Homo sapiens: one gene and its partners. The protein of the gene in region 2 purifies or fractionates together with the protein of the main gene of each other region. This does not show direct contact. Each region holds a gene or a part of one and is shown on either strand. Other genes may lie near its edges.

The links. The genes of interacting proteins can lie anywhere in the genome.
Region 1: the proteins of RNASEH2A (region 2) and HEMK2 purify together in Homo sapiens (affinity purification with mass spectrometry; one large-scale study listed by BioGRID and IntAct). This does not show direct contact.
Region 3: the proteins of RNASEH2A (region 2) and IPO7 fractionate together in Homo sapiens (co-fractionation; one large-scale study listed by BioGRID). This does not show direct contact.
Region 4: the proteins of RNASEH2A (region 2) and TTF1 purify together in Homo sapiens (affinity purification with mass spectrometry; one large-scale study listed by BioGRID and IntAct). This does not show direct contact.

What each region holds. Positions count from the first base shown.
Region 1 is NC_000021.9:28,875,368-28,878,867, forward strand, and holds part of HEMK2 (methyltransferase HEMK2), read right to left. Parts: intron 2,967-3,500; coding exon 2,825-2,966; intron 1,125-2,824; coding exon 1,018-1,124; 3' UTR 1-1,017. UniProt on the Homo sapiens protein: Methyltransferase that can methylate proteins and, to a lower extent, arsenic.
Region 2 is NC_000019.10:12,811,862-12,814,140, reverse strand, and holds the end of RNASEH2A (ribonuclease H2 subunit A), read right to left. Parts: intron 1,059-2,279; coding exon 935-1,058; intron 814-934; coding exon 675-813; 3' UTR 501-674; downstream 1-500. UniProt on the Homo sapiens protein: Catalytic subunit of RNase HII, an endonuclease that specifically degrades the RNA of RNA:DNA hybrids. Participates in DNA replication, possibly by mediating the removal of lagging-strand Okazaki fragment RNA primers during DNA replication.
Region 3 is NC_000011.10:9,422,652-9,426,151, forward strand, and holds part of IPO7 (importin-7), read left to right. Parts: intron 1-354; coding exon 355-489; intron 490-1,125; coding exon 1,126-1,225; intron 1,226-2,262; coding exon 2,263-2,339; intron 2,340-2,494; coding exon 2,495-2,611; intron 2,612-3,500. UniProt on the Homo sapiens protein: Functions in nuclear protein import, either by acting as autonomous nuclear transport receptor or as an adapter-like protein in association with the importin-beta subunit KPNB1.
Region 4 is NC_000009.12:132,382,841-132,386,340, forward strand, and holds part of TTF1 (transcription termination factor 1), read right to left. Parts: intron 1-3,500. UniProt on the Homo sapiens protein: Multifunctional nucleolar protein that terminates ribosomal gene transcription, mediates replication fork arrest and regulates RNA polymerase I transcription on chromatin.

The sequences.
Region 1 (3,500 bases), on a different chromosome or scaffold from region 2:
GTTTCTCAAAAAGAGACTAGTTATTTGTTGGTAATGGCACGGCTTTGCTCTAAAATCCTAAACCAAGATTCACCTATAGGGACCTGCCAGAAGCTTCAAACAGCATCCCTATCTGCCACTGCCACTGAAACACCACTGGATCTGCTGGATCATATGACCCAAGTGGCAGAGCAGCTTGCACAGCAGCCTGGACCTGTTGCAGACTCTTTTCTTGTTCTGGGCCCTACTCAAAACTAGCAGCTTTTTGAGTCAATTGGTAAACAGGCTGGTATAACATAATGAAATTGGAAAATGTTGCCTCCAAAACCCAAAGAGGCCCACTAAGTATTGTGCCTCTTTCTTGGTTTTAAGAGCAGCAAGATGCAAGTACTTATCCTTCACCGTAGAAGAAATATCCTAACATGCCCCATGTCACTGGATCCCTACCAATTTCACTAAGGTAGAAGGCCCTTGAATTGTAGTCATATTTATTTCCTACCCTCTGATGCAAATGTCTTTCCACTAAGTCTAATGTAGTTCCTACTTCTTGCTCACTAGGTCAAATCAGCATAATGTCATCGATATAACCAATCAGTGTAATATTTTGTGGAAGGGAAAGGTAATCAAGATCCCCATGAACTGAATTATGACATAGAGTTGGAGAGCTGATACACACCGGAGATACGACAATGAAGGTGTGTTGCTGGCCCTGCCATCTGAAAGCAAACTGCCTTTATGGACTGGTATGAAAAAAAAGACATTTGCCAGATCAATTCCATTGCCTTACCACATAATGCTGAAATAAATATTTCATACATAATTTTTATATTTAAAATGCAAACTATAAATATAATACACATATTTACTTGTACTTGTGCAAATAATTCTATAGGCCTGACTGAAAGGGAATGTTCCACCTTTCTACCTTTTTTTAATGACAAATTTCTGATAAAATTCCTTGTTACCTAATGAATGACTTCAGTTTCAAAATATGCTAAATGCATTCAGTTTCCAGTAGTTCTGGGCACACACTGTATGCTAAGACTTGGTGAACTTGAGGACTGAAAGAGTTTCTTGGCCTGCTTGTCTGGAAAGTGCAGTGGTTCCTTGCAGACCTTTTGTCTTCATTATTTTCAAAATTTCTTCTAAAATAAAAATCAAAAGGTAAAATCCATTAAGCCATTTGGTAGTGTGCATGATCAATAAGCAATTTAATAAGTTAAACACAGATGATTTATAAATTGTATTCATCTGACAAAACAATGTATATCAAATAAATGTCTACTAAAGTGAACTTGGTCTTCAGCTAAATGGGAGCACTTGGTATTTTCAAAGTGTTGCTGGTGAGTCTAATCAGAATAAATGGCTTGCTTTGCAGTCACAGCCTACTTTTGACTCAGCAGAAACATTAATTGTCATTGTTATTATAGCAAGTGATCAGTTTTTTAGTTGATTGGCTCCAATCTCTGCCCTATGTCTTTCTCTTTGGATGACAAAAGCCAATGAAGGTGTGGACAAACTGAATAGTGACATTGCACAGTGAGAGTGAAAGAAGTAGCTTATTTCTTTCAGGCATATTGAAAAAAGAAAACCTTCCTTATAAATAAATAAAACTAAGAAGACTGAACTAAGACAATGGAGGGAGGGAGGGAGGGAGGGAGGAAGGAAGGAAGGAAGGAAGGAAGGAAGGAGGGAGGGAGGGAGGGAGGGAGGGAAGGAGGGAGGGAAGGGAAGGGAAGGGAGGGAAAGGAAAGGACGCATGGATGGACAGAAGGAAGAAAAAAAGAGAAGAGAAGAGAGAGAGAGAAAGAAAGAGAAAGAAAGAAAGAAAGAGAGGGAGGGAGGAAGGAAGGGAGGGAAGGGAGAGAAAGGAAGGGAAGGAAGGAAAGGAAGGGAAGGGAAGGGAAGAGAAGGGAAGGAAGGAAGGAAGGAAGGAAGGAAGGAAGGAAGGAAGAGAGAGAGAAAGAGAGAAAGAAAGAAAAAGAAAGAAGGAAGGAAGGAAAGAAAAAAAAGAAAGAAGAGAAGGGAAGGGAAGAAAGAAGGAAGGAAGGGAAGAAAAAAAAGAAGGAAGGAAAGAAAGAGAGAGAGAAGGAAGGACAGATGGACAGAAGGAAGGAAAAAAAGAAGAGAAGAGAAAGAGAAAGAAAAAGAGACAAAGATGGACAGAAGGAAAAAAGAAAAGAGAAGAGAAGAGAGAGAGATAAAGAAAAAGAAAAGGAAAGGAAAGAAGAAAGGAAGAAAGAAAGATGGAGAGAAGGAAGGAAAAAAAGAGAAAAGAGAGAAATAGGAAGGAAGGAAGGGAGAAAGACAAGAGAAAACTAGCAATCATGTGATTTGAAGGGCTGAGGACTTTTAGTATAAGCTGAAAATCAAACTTGAAGTGTACAGAAAAAGAGAGGAAAGATTATGGTCAATTTAGTTATAAAGCAATCTGAAAACAAAGATATAAAAATCTATACAATTAAATAGCTTTCATGATAAAACTCCTAACGAACTAAAGAGTACAGCACAATTGTCAAGGGCATGAAGACTAGAGGGTAGAGAGAAAATTCATAATACTGAGAGTGAGGTGTTAGAAAAAAACATTAGAGATTTTTATACTTGAATATTAGGTTATAAACGGGGAAAAGAGAAGATAATACTTTTTAAAATCAGAAAAATTTACCTCTGAAAACCTCTTTTCTCTTTCAACATAAATTTATGCCTGTATTAGCTACTGTCAGTGATTAACTGTTTTAAGTGATTCATTAACATGCCAGGTTATCTTATAAATTAAAGCATTTTACATTATTAACTTTTGATTTCAGCAACATAAATGCTTAAACAATAAATTGGTCTGTATTACCTGGGTTGTTTTCTTTAATGGTAACTAAATAGAATAATCCTCTTGGTGAAAGGAGATCTGGAACCAGGGGAAAAAACCTGTCCATGACTTCCCGACCATTTCTGCCACCAGCCCAAGCTGCCTCTATTCCGTGACTTCCTACCTGTGAACAATTAGAAAGAATGTTTTCTTTTAACTCAAGTTTGATTTAGATCACAAACTGAATCTTTTTGACAAGTAATATCACCAAAAAAGTATATATTTTGCATTTTACTGCTGACGAAGGAGCAGTCAAGTTGAATCTAAGTTTCATCATTTTCTAGTGTGTAACCTTGGATAAATTAGTAATCCTGTTTGTGAATTACTTTCCTCTTTTATCTGTAAAATTAGAAAAAGAATAGTTCCATATGTACAATTAGAAAAATAATAAGTGGATAAAAAATGTTTTTATTAATAAAAAAATATTTTTATCCACTGTTAGGAATAAATAAGGAAGTATATTTAAAGTTTTGAGAACATTGCCCTGCGTATATCAAGGGCTTAATAAGTTATTACTATTAATACAATGCTTAACATTGAGAGACATGGGTAGCTTTTGTACTTAACACAGAAAGAAGCTAGAAGGAACAGCTTGTTTTATAAGAGACCTACTGTACAGAAACAAAGTTTCAAAATGTCCCAATGCATCTGGCCCTCT
Region 2 (2,279 bases):
CGCTTGAACCCAGGAGGCAGAGGTTGCAGTGAGCCAAAATTGCATCACTGCACTCCAGCCTGGTGACAAAGTGAGACTCTGTCTCAAATTAAAAAAAAAAGAAAGAAAGAAAAGAAAAGAAAATTAGCCGGGTGTGGTGGTGTGCACCTGTAATCCCAGCTACTCAGGAGGCTGAGGCAGGGGAATTGCTTGAACCAGGGAGGTGGAGGTTGCAGTGAGCCAAGATTGTGCCATGGTACTCCAGCCTGGGCAACAGGAGACTGTGTCTCAAAAAAAAAAAAAAATTAGTTGGGCATGGCACACGCCTATAGTCCCAGCTGCTTGGGAAATTGAGGCAGGAGAATCGCTTGAACCTGGAAGGCAGAGGTTGCAGTGAGCTGAGATTGCCCCATTCTACTCCAGCCTGGGTGACAGAGTGAGACTTCGTCTCTCAAAAAAATAAAATAAAATAAAATAAAATAAATAAAATTTAAAAATGAAAAAAATCAAACCAAATAAAATTAATCAACCAACACCCATTCTATTTAAGGTTCCAAAAGGAAGTAGCTGGACCCGGCTGCAGAGCACACTCCCACCTTGCTTCTGTCCCAAAAGTACATCCCCTACGTGTGGTTCTCCTTAAACAATTTTAATGTCTGGGTTGGGGAAGCAGGTAGAGCGCGTAGAGGCAGCTGCTAGAGGCTGGTTGCTGACTCCAGGCCGCGTTCCAGGAAATATCGGTGGGAAGAACGGGGACGGGCTTGGGACCCTTCATTGAGGAAGTAGGATGTGATCTTCCTGAGTCCCTCCTGATTCTCGGATGCTGAGTCCTCCCTGTGGGAGAGAGGTGATGACAGTGACCACTTACACAGGGAGCAACCCTCTCAGGCAGGGCTGAACGCTGGCCTCCCTCCTTCCTTCCCTATAGCACCCCCAGGACATCCATGACACCCACCATATAACATCTTCCGCCTCTTTCTCCAGGATGGTCTGGGCCGTGCGCCAGCTGAACCGGACAAACTGGGGGAAGCCGAACACAGGCTCCACGTGCTCCTTCAACCACGCTTTTGTCTTGGGATCTGGGGTAGGGTGGGCAATGGTGACAGTCCAAGTTGCACCATAACATTCAAGCTCCCTGCCACTCTTTTTTTTTTCTTTGAGATGGAGTCCCACTCTGTAGCCAGGCTGGAGTGCAGTGGCGCGATCTCAGCTCACTGCAACCTCCACCTCCCGGATTCAAGCGATTCTCCTGCCTCAGCCTCCCAAGTAGCTGGGACTACAGGCGCATGCCACCATGCCCAGCTAAATTTTGTGTTTTTAGTAGTGACGAGGTTTCACCATGTTGGCCAGGATGGTCTCAATTGCTTGACCTCGTGATCTACCCCCCTCGGCCTCCCAAAGTGCTGGGATTACAGGCATGAGCCACCACGCCCGGCCTCCTTGCCGCTCTTCTAAGGCTTCCTCCTGAGTACCTGGGGCACCTCCTATGGTCTGAAGCACCTTCTTGCCACAGGACCTTTACCTGGCCAAGAGCTGCTAAAAGGGCAGTGCAGGGAGACTGCCTCTGAGACATCTCCTTGACCTCCAAGAACAAGTCATTAAACATTTTTATTTTATTTACTTATTTTTTGAAATGGAGTCTTGCTCTGTCACCCAGGCTGTAGTGCAATGGTGCGATCTCGGCTCACTGCAACCTCCGCCTCCCAGGTTCAAGCGATTCTCCTGCCTCAGCCTCCCAAGTAGCTGGGACTACAGCCACCCACCACCATACCTGGCTAATTTTTGTATTTTTAGTAGAGACGGGGTTTCACCATATTGGACAGGCAGGCTGGTCTCAAACTCCTGACCTCAGGTGATCCACCCACCTCAGCCTCCCAAAGTGCTGGGATTACAGGTGTAAACACCACACCCAGCCTTTTTATTTTTTTGAGATAGGGTCTCGCTCTATTACCCAGGCTGGAGTGCAGTGACATTATCACAGCTCAATGCAACCTCTGCCTCCCAGGCTCAAGCCATCCTCTCACCTCAGCCTCCCAAGTAGCTGGGACTACAGGTGCGCACCACCACACCTAATTTTTGTATTTTTTGTAGAGATGGGGTCTTGTCATATTGCCCAGGCTGGTTGTGAATTCCTGAGTTCACATGATCTACCTGCCTCTGTCTCTTAAAATGCTAGGATTACGGGCATGAGCCACCTGGCCCAGCCTGTCATTAAATATTATTATTATTATTATTATTATTATTTTGAGATGGAATTTTGCTCATTTCCCAGGCTGGAGTGCAATTATGCGATCTCGGCT
Region 3 (3,500 bases), on a different chromosome or scaffold from region 2:
ATAGGTAGCAAATGGGTTAGGTGTGGTGACTTACACCTGTAATCCCAGCACTTTGGGAGGCTGAGATGGGAGAATCGCTTGAGGCCAGGAGTTAGAGACCAGCCGGGGCAACGTAGTGAGACACTGTCTCTAACAACAACAACAAAAAAAACCCCAGAAAAACGAAGATAGTATATAGTTTTCTCTTCTTTTCATTCTTAATCAGAAATGAGTTAAATTATTTTTCAAAGTATACGGTTGTTTTTCTTGATGATGAGCTTGTCATTAAAATATGTGTTAACTGTTTTTACTGGCTTGTAAGTGGTTGAAATTTCTATTTGAACATTGATTTGTGATCGAAAATTTTTTTCCAAGGTTTTATTGAAGGTGTTATATCAGTACAAGGAGAAGCAATATATGGCTCCTCGAGTTTTACAACAGACATTAAATTATATTAATCAAGGAGTTTCTCATGCTCTCACCTGGAAGAATCTGAAGCCCCATATACAAGTAATAATTTTTATCTGAAATGTTTTTATAGTAAATATAATAGAAATGACATCAATTGCCATAAAGGTTGAAAAATTGCATGTTTGTTGAGTTGTGTTACTTAGACTACTTCTGGTGATTGTTTTGAGAGTATAGCAGAAAAAGGAGATAAGACAGTGACATAAAGTTATGAGAGGTATCTTGTGAATATTCAACTTATCTTTTAATCCAAAACTGTTGTCTTCAAACTTGCAATTTAAGTTCTTAATATTGGACTATGATTATATTTTATCATGTAATTTGGAGTAGCCAAGGGACTTTATCTCACCAGATTCATTTCTAGTATAAATGACTTACCTGCTATTTCTATGAATAATTTATGTGCTTTATTTAGAGCTGTAGAATTTTATAGACTATATATATTTAGAATACTTAATTGCGACCTTTGTACACATATATCTTAAAGTTACTTGTTACAGAAAGGGGAAGTACATGTAGTTTGATAGTTGATCTTAGAACACATTAAATGCATTACTAACGTTTGATATTAAGCTTTAAAATACATATAGTGTTACTTTGGTTTTAATACTTAAAGGAAATTTGAAGGTTTAAATTTGAAAACTGATGGTTATTGTTTTCTTAACTTTTAAATTGCAGGGCATTATCCAAGATGTTATTTTTCCATTGATGTGCTATACAGATGCTGATGAGGAACTTTGGCAAGAAGACCCTTACGAATATATACGCATGAAGTTTGGTAAGGAATTTTCACGTTTTTAGAAACAAAAAATGTCAGTAATTAAGATTACAGTGATTGCATGTAGCCAACCTAGGGGGTATTATGTATCTTCTTTGTTGTTTTAATGTAATTGATCCCTTGTGTAGTCCTTTTTGGGGCTATTTATTAATTATGACATTTGATAATGATAATCTTATTTTTGGCAGACACAAATTCAATACTGTTAAGTTTTTATTACTGAATACCAAAACTGTTAGATATTCAAGATTACACCTCAACACTAAATGTCTTAACTATACTTTTGGATCTTATGTTAGCCATCATATGAGTGGGAAATGAGAAAACACATCTAGGAAGCTGGTGTCACATGAAGTCCTTGCACAGAACTAAAGAATTGTAATTTGGCTAATAATGTTGAATATTGGTCCTTATTCTTACCAAGTCATTTGTGCTTTTTGCAGCTTGTACTTTTGTGACCCTGTTGTGAAAATTCTCACATCAGTAGTGTTTCATACATACGATTTAAACTGCTGAGTTCTGAGTTAATAAATAAAAATGAAAGCTATTAGGAGGAATTCATGGATTAACATTTAATTTTCACAGGCCAGGTGCGGTGGCTAAGGCCTGTAAATCCCAACGTGTTGGGAGGCCGAGGCAGGCAGATCGTTTGAGGTCAGGAGTTTGAGACCAGCCTGACCAATATAGTGAAACCCCATCTCTACTAAAAATACAAAAATTAGCCGGGCGTGGTGGCAGGCACCTGTAAACCAGCTACTTGGGAGGCTGAGGCAGGAGAATTGCTTGAACCTGGGAGATGGAGGTTACAATGAGCCGAGATCGCCCACTGCACTCCAGCCTGAGTGACAGAGCGAGACTCCATCTCAAAACAAACAAAAGCATTCAATTTGTACAGAAAAGACATTGAATTCTGCTTTTGCAAAATTATAAAGGGATCTGGGATCATTTTCATACCTTATGTAAAGATTAAGCATGTTTTTTAATGCTTTGTTGAAGAAATTAATGTTTATTGTCTTAATTTTAAACTTGTTCTCTAGATGTGTTTGAAGATTTCATTTCTCCTACCACTGCTGCCCAGACACTTTTGTTTACAGCCTGTAGTAAGAGGAAAGAGGTAGGCTTATTTAATGTTTAGATAACTTTTCTGTATTATTTAAAATTTATTCAACTATACACTTTTTAAATGTTAGTCATGTGAGTCATTTTGTTAGTATGTTTTTTAAGGACTGTTGGCCTATTCAGTAACAATACTTTTCTCTTTTAATCTAGGTACTGCAAAAGACTATGGGATTTTGTTACCAGATTCTTACAGAACCAAATGCTGACCCTCGAAAAAAAGATGGAGCCCTGCATATGATTGGCTCTTTAGCTGAAATACTTCTGAAGGTATTCTTTAGTGTGTTTGTATGTGCATGACTATGCAAGTAGTTTTAAAAAATAAATAGCCAGCCAGGCACAGTGGCTCACTTCTATAATCCCAGCACTTTCGGGATGCTGAGGCAGGCAGATTGCCTGAGCCCAGGAGTTTGAGAACAGCCTGGGCAACATAGTGATACCCCCATCTCTATAAGGATAAAAAATAGGCCGGGTGTGGTGGCTTATGCCTGTAATCCCAGCTATTTGGGAGGCCAGGGCGGGGGGATCACCTGAGGTCAGCAGTTGAAGACCAGCCTGGCCAACATGGTGAAACCCCGTCTCTACTAAAAATACAAAAATCCGCCGGGCGTGATGGCTCACGCCTGTAATCCCAGCATTTTGGGAGACCGAGGTGGGTGGATCATGAGGTCAGGAGATCGAGACCATCCTGGCTAACACAGTGAAACCCCGTCTCTACTAAAAATAAAAATAAAAAATTAGCCGGGCATGGTGGCTGGCGCCTGTAGTCCCAGCTACTCAGGAGGCTGAGGCAGGAGAATGGCTTGAACCCGGGACGTGGAGTTTGCAGTGAGCCGAGATCACGCCACTGCAATCCAGCCTGGGCGACAGAGTGAGACTCTGTCTCCAAAAAAAAAAAAAAAAATCAGCTGGGCATGGTGGTGGGCACCTGTAATCCCAGCTACTTAGGAGGCTGAGGCAGGAGAATCACTTGAACTTGGGAGGCGGAGGCTGCAGTGAGCCGAGGTCATGCCACTGCACTCCATGCTCCAGTCCAGGCGACAGAGACTCCGTCTCAAAAAAAAATAAAAAAATAAAAAATAACAACCTTATGGAGTGTACAACTCAGTGGTTTTTAGTTTATTCACAGTTGTATAACTATCACCCCCAGAAGGAACTC
Region 4 (3,500 bases), on a different chromosome or scaffold from region 2:
GGATCACTTGAGGTAAGGAGTTTGAGACCAGCCTGGCCAACATGGTGAAACCTTGTCTCTATTAAAAATACAAAAATTAGCCAGGTATGGTGGCAGGTACCTGTAATCCCAGCTATTCAGAGGCTGAGACAGGAGAACTGCTTGAACCCGGAAGGTGGAGGTTGCAGGGAACCGAGATCACGCTGTTGCACTCCAGCCTGGGCAACAAGAGTGAAAATCCGTCTCAAAAAAAAAAAAATTAACTAATTAAAAAAAAAACTAGCCAGGCAGGGTGGTGCATGCCTCTAATTCCAGCTATTTAGGTGGCTGAGGCACAAGAATTGCTTGAACCTGGGAGGCAGAGGGTGCAGTGAGCTGAGATCACACCATTGTAACTCCAGCCTGGGCAACAGAGTAAGACTCTTGTCTTCAAAAAAAAAAAAAAAAAGGACACTAAGGAAATGGAACAATTATTAAAGGGGGAAAATGCTATCAAGGACATTACTGGGACAACTGGTGAAATCTGAATGTGGACTATGTTTTAGAGGGTGTACTATATCAATGTGAAACTTCCTGATTCTCGATTGTACTATGGTTATGTAAAATAACATCCTTGCTTGGGAAGTGGTATCTGCCACTAACTCTTGAATGGTTATGGGAAAAACCGTATTCCCTTGGAGGAGGGAGAGAGGGATGATAAAGTGAACGTAGCAGAATGTTCAGAAGAGGCGACTATGGGTAAAGGGGATGCGGGGTTCTTTCTGTTACTCTTGCAACTTGTTTAGCTTTTTGAAGCCTTTAAGAGACTTTGCATACATTTCATTTGCCTTTCTTGGGTGTCTTCGGTGGCAGGTGGGCTGGAGGGAGGGCTGGTCTGATTTATTTGGTCCAGAGCACAGAGACTGGAAGTCTCGAATAAACACACACATTGCAGCTTTCCTGTTCTGTGGCGCTGGCACACCACCCTGCAACCACGCAGTGTTTCCTCACCCAAGACTGTATCTTGGCGCTTTCTTTGCCCCACCACCGAGGGGCTTTCTCATGATTTTTTGTAGCTATAAAGAATGTCACTATATGGGTAAAATACATATATAGCCAGTCCCCTATTAACAGGCCTTTTGCAGTCAGTTACTCTGTATACAAGTCATTTCATGTATGTGTGAAGTTGTTTTGTAGAATGTATTTCTAGAAATGGAATTACTAGAATTATTTGAATTTTGAATGGTACTAAGGCTGCAAAGTATGTAAAATTTACCAAAACAGATAACAGTAATTGGAGGGAGTGAATGTAGATGTTTAATAAGGACGGCTGGATTTTGACAGTTGCTGAACTGGGGTGATGGGTACATGAAGCTTCATTTATTTTGTATCTGTCTAAAATTTTCCTAATAAAGTTTCTGAAAAAAATAATTGGGCATTGCTAATAAAGCAGTACTTAGAAGAAAACATATGGCCTTAAATGTATATTACAAAGAAAGAAAAATGGAAAATGAGCTAAGAACCCATCTCAAGAAGTTGAAGAACAGCAGCAAAATAAACTCAAAGAGAGCTGAAGGGAGGGCGTGATAAAGAGCTGACATTAGAATAATCACAAGATAGGGTCAACGCAATCAAAGCTGGTGCTTTGAAAAGACAATCTCTGGTAACTCCTATTCAAGCAGTAACAAAAGAGAGTAGGTATAAATAGCCAACATTAGCCATCAGAACATCACTCAGATCCTGCAGACATTTTGCATAAACCATCTACGGAAAATAGATACTGGTTTCCTGTAGGGCTACGCGTGGCTGGTGAGTGGTAAGGGGACACTTTTCACTGTGTTTCCTTTCAGGTTTCTTTCTTTCTTTCTTTTCTTTTGAGATGGAGTCTTGCTCTGTTGCCCAGGCTGGAGTGCAATGGCATGATCTCGGCTTACTGCAACCTCCGCCTCCTGGGTTCAAGCGATTCTCCTGCCTCAGCCTCCTGAGTAGCTGGGACTACAGGCACCTGCCATCATGCCTGGCTAATTTTTGTATTTTTGTAGAGACGGAGTTGAACCATGTTGGCCAGGCTGGTCTTGAACTCCTGACCTCAGGTGATCTGCCCACCTTGGCCTCCCAAAGTGCTGGGATTACAGGCAAGAGCCACCGTGCCCAGCCTACGTTTCTTTAATTCTGGACTACGTAATCTATTACCTATTCCAGAAAAACAGCAAAATCAAACTGAACAGTCAAGTCCTTTTTCCTTATGGGTGGGGCATGATATTCAGTTCTGTATTTGAATTGTTACACACAACTAAAACGTTCTAACTGGGAACCGACCAAGTCATTTAACCAGCGCTAAAGCACGGGGTCTCGGCAGGGTAACACATCTGAGTCACCTGGAGCTCTGAACAATCCTGACAGCCAGACCCCACACCAGACCAATCCCATTCATGCGAAGCCAGACCCCACACCAGACCAATCCCATTCACGTGGCACTGGTATTTTTTAAAAGTTCCCCAGATGATTTTGAAGTGAGAGCTGGGCTGAAAACCAGAGAATTGCTAGTGTTTACAAAGTTCCAAATTGGGTACACAAAGGTAACTGGAACTCCTGGATGTCTGGAGCGTGTGCTGAGTTGTCAACTGTCTGAAGTCCCCTGAGGCGTGGGAGTCTGGCCTGCACACGCACCCAGCCCATCGCTGCCGTCATTTTACTCACTGTTCTGGGCCACCTGGTCCCTTTCCAGTCCCTTGAATGTGCCCAGCCAGTGCTGGCTCAAGGTGTCCGCATTCACTACTCTCTGTCCGAACATCTTCAGTCTCATCCCCGCATGGCTACCCTGCCACCGCTTCTGCTTCCATAGTCTTCCCTAACCACTCTATCTGATTGCCCCCGACGTCCCTTCTACTCTATTTTTGTTTTCTTTTTGGTACCATGCTATCTGAAATGAGCTTATTTGTTTACAGTCTCTTCCCAGAACTAAATGTGAGTTCCTACTCTGTGCCTGGTATACAGAAGGTAGTCAATAATTATTATTAGTTTGATATCGTTATCATCAATGTAGTTTTTAGGTTAATTCTATACTATACAAAACTTGGCATTTGTGTCAGCAGAATGGATGCTCTACCAGGCAAGGAACTTGTCTTTTGTTCAATGCTGTATCCCCAGAGCCTAGAAAAATGCCTGGCATATAGGCACCTCGTATTTGGTGGGTGAAGAGTAATTCTGAGCCTTTGATTTTTCAATAATTGGAATTGATAAAAGGTATGTACTGGGAAAATTCACTTCATTGTTACTAAAGTACCTATAATATCACCTCCAATGCCTGCCAAGGTCAACTCGACTGTATGGTAATACTTCCTTACACGATTATTTTTCCACTGGAAAACTGAAATAGGAGGGAGGTGGGTGGGCCATAGGTATTATGCTCTAGCTAAAATCTGTAATCACAAAACACCTGAGGCGTGATGATCTATGTGACACTAAAAAAAGGGAAGAAAAATGAAAAACATATCCAACTAGTGATGTATTTAGTGTCATGAAAACCTGATCTACCTAGC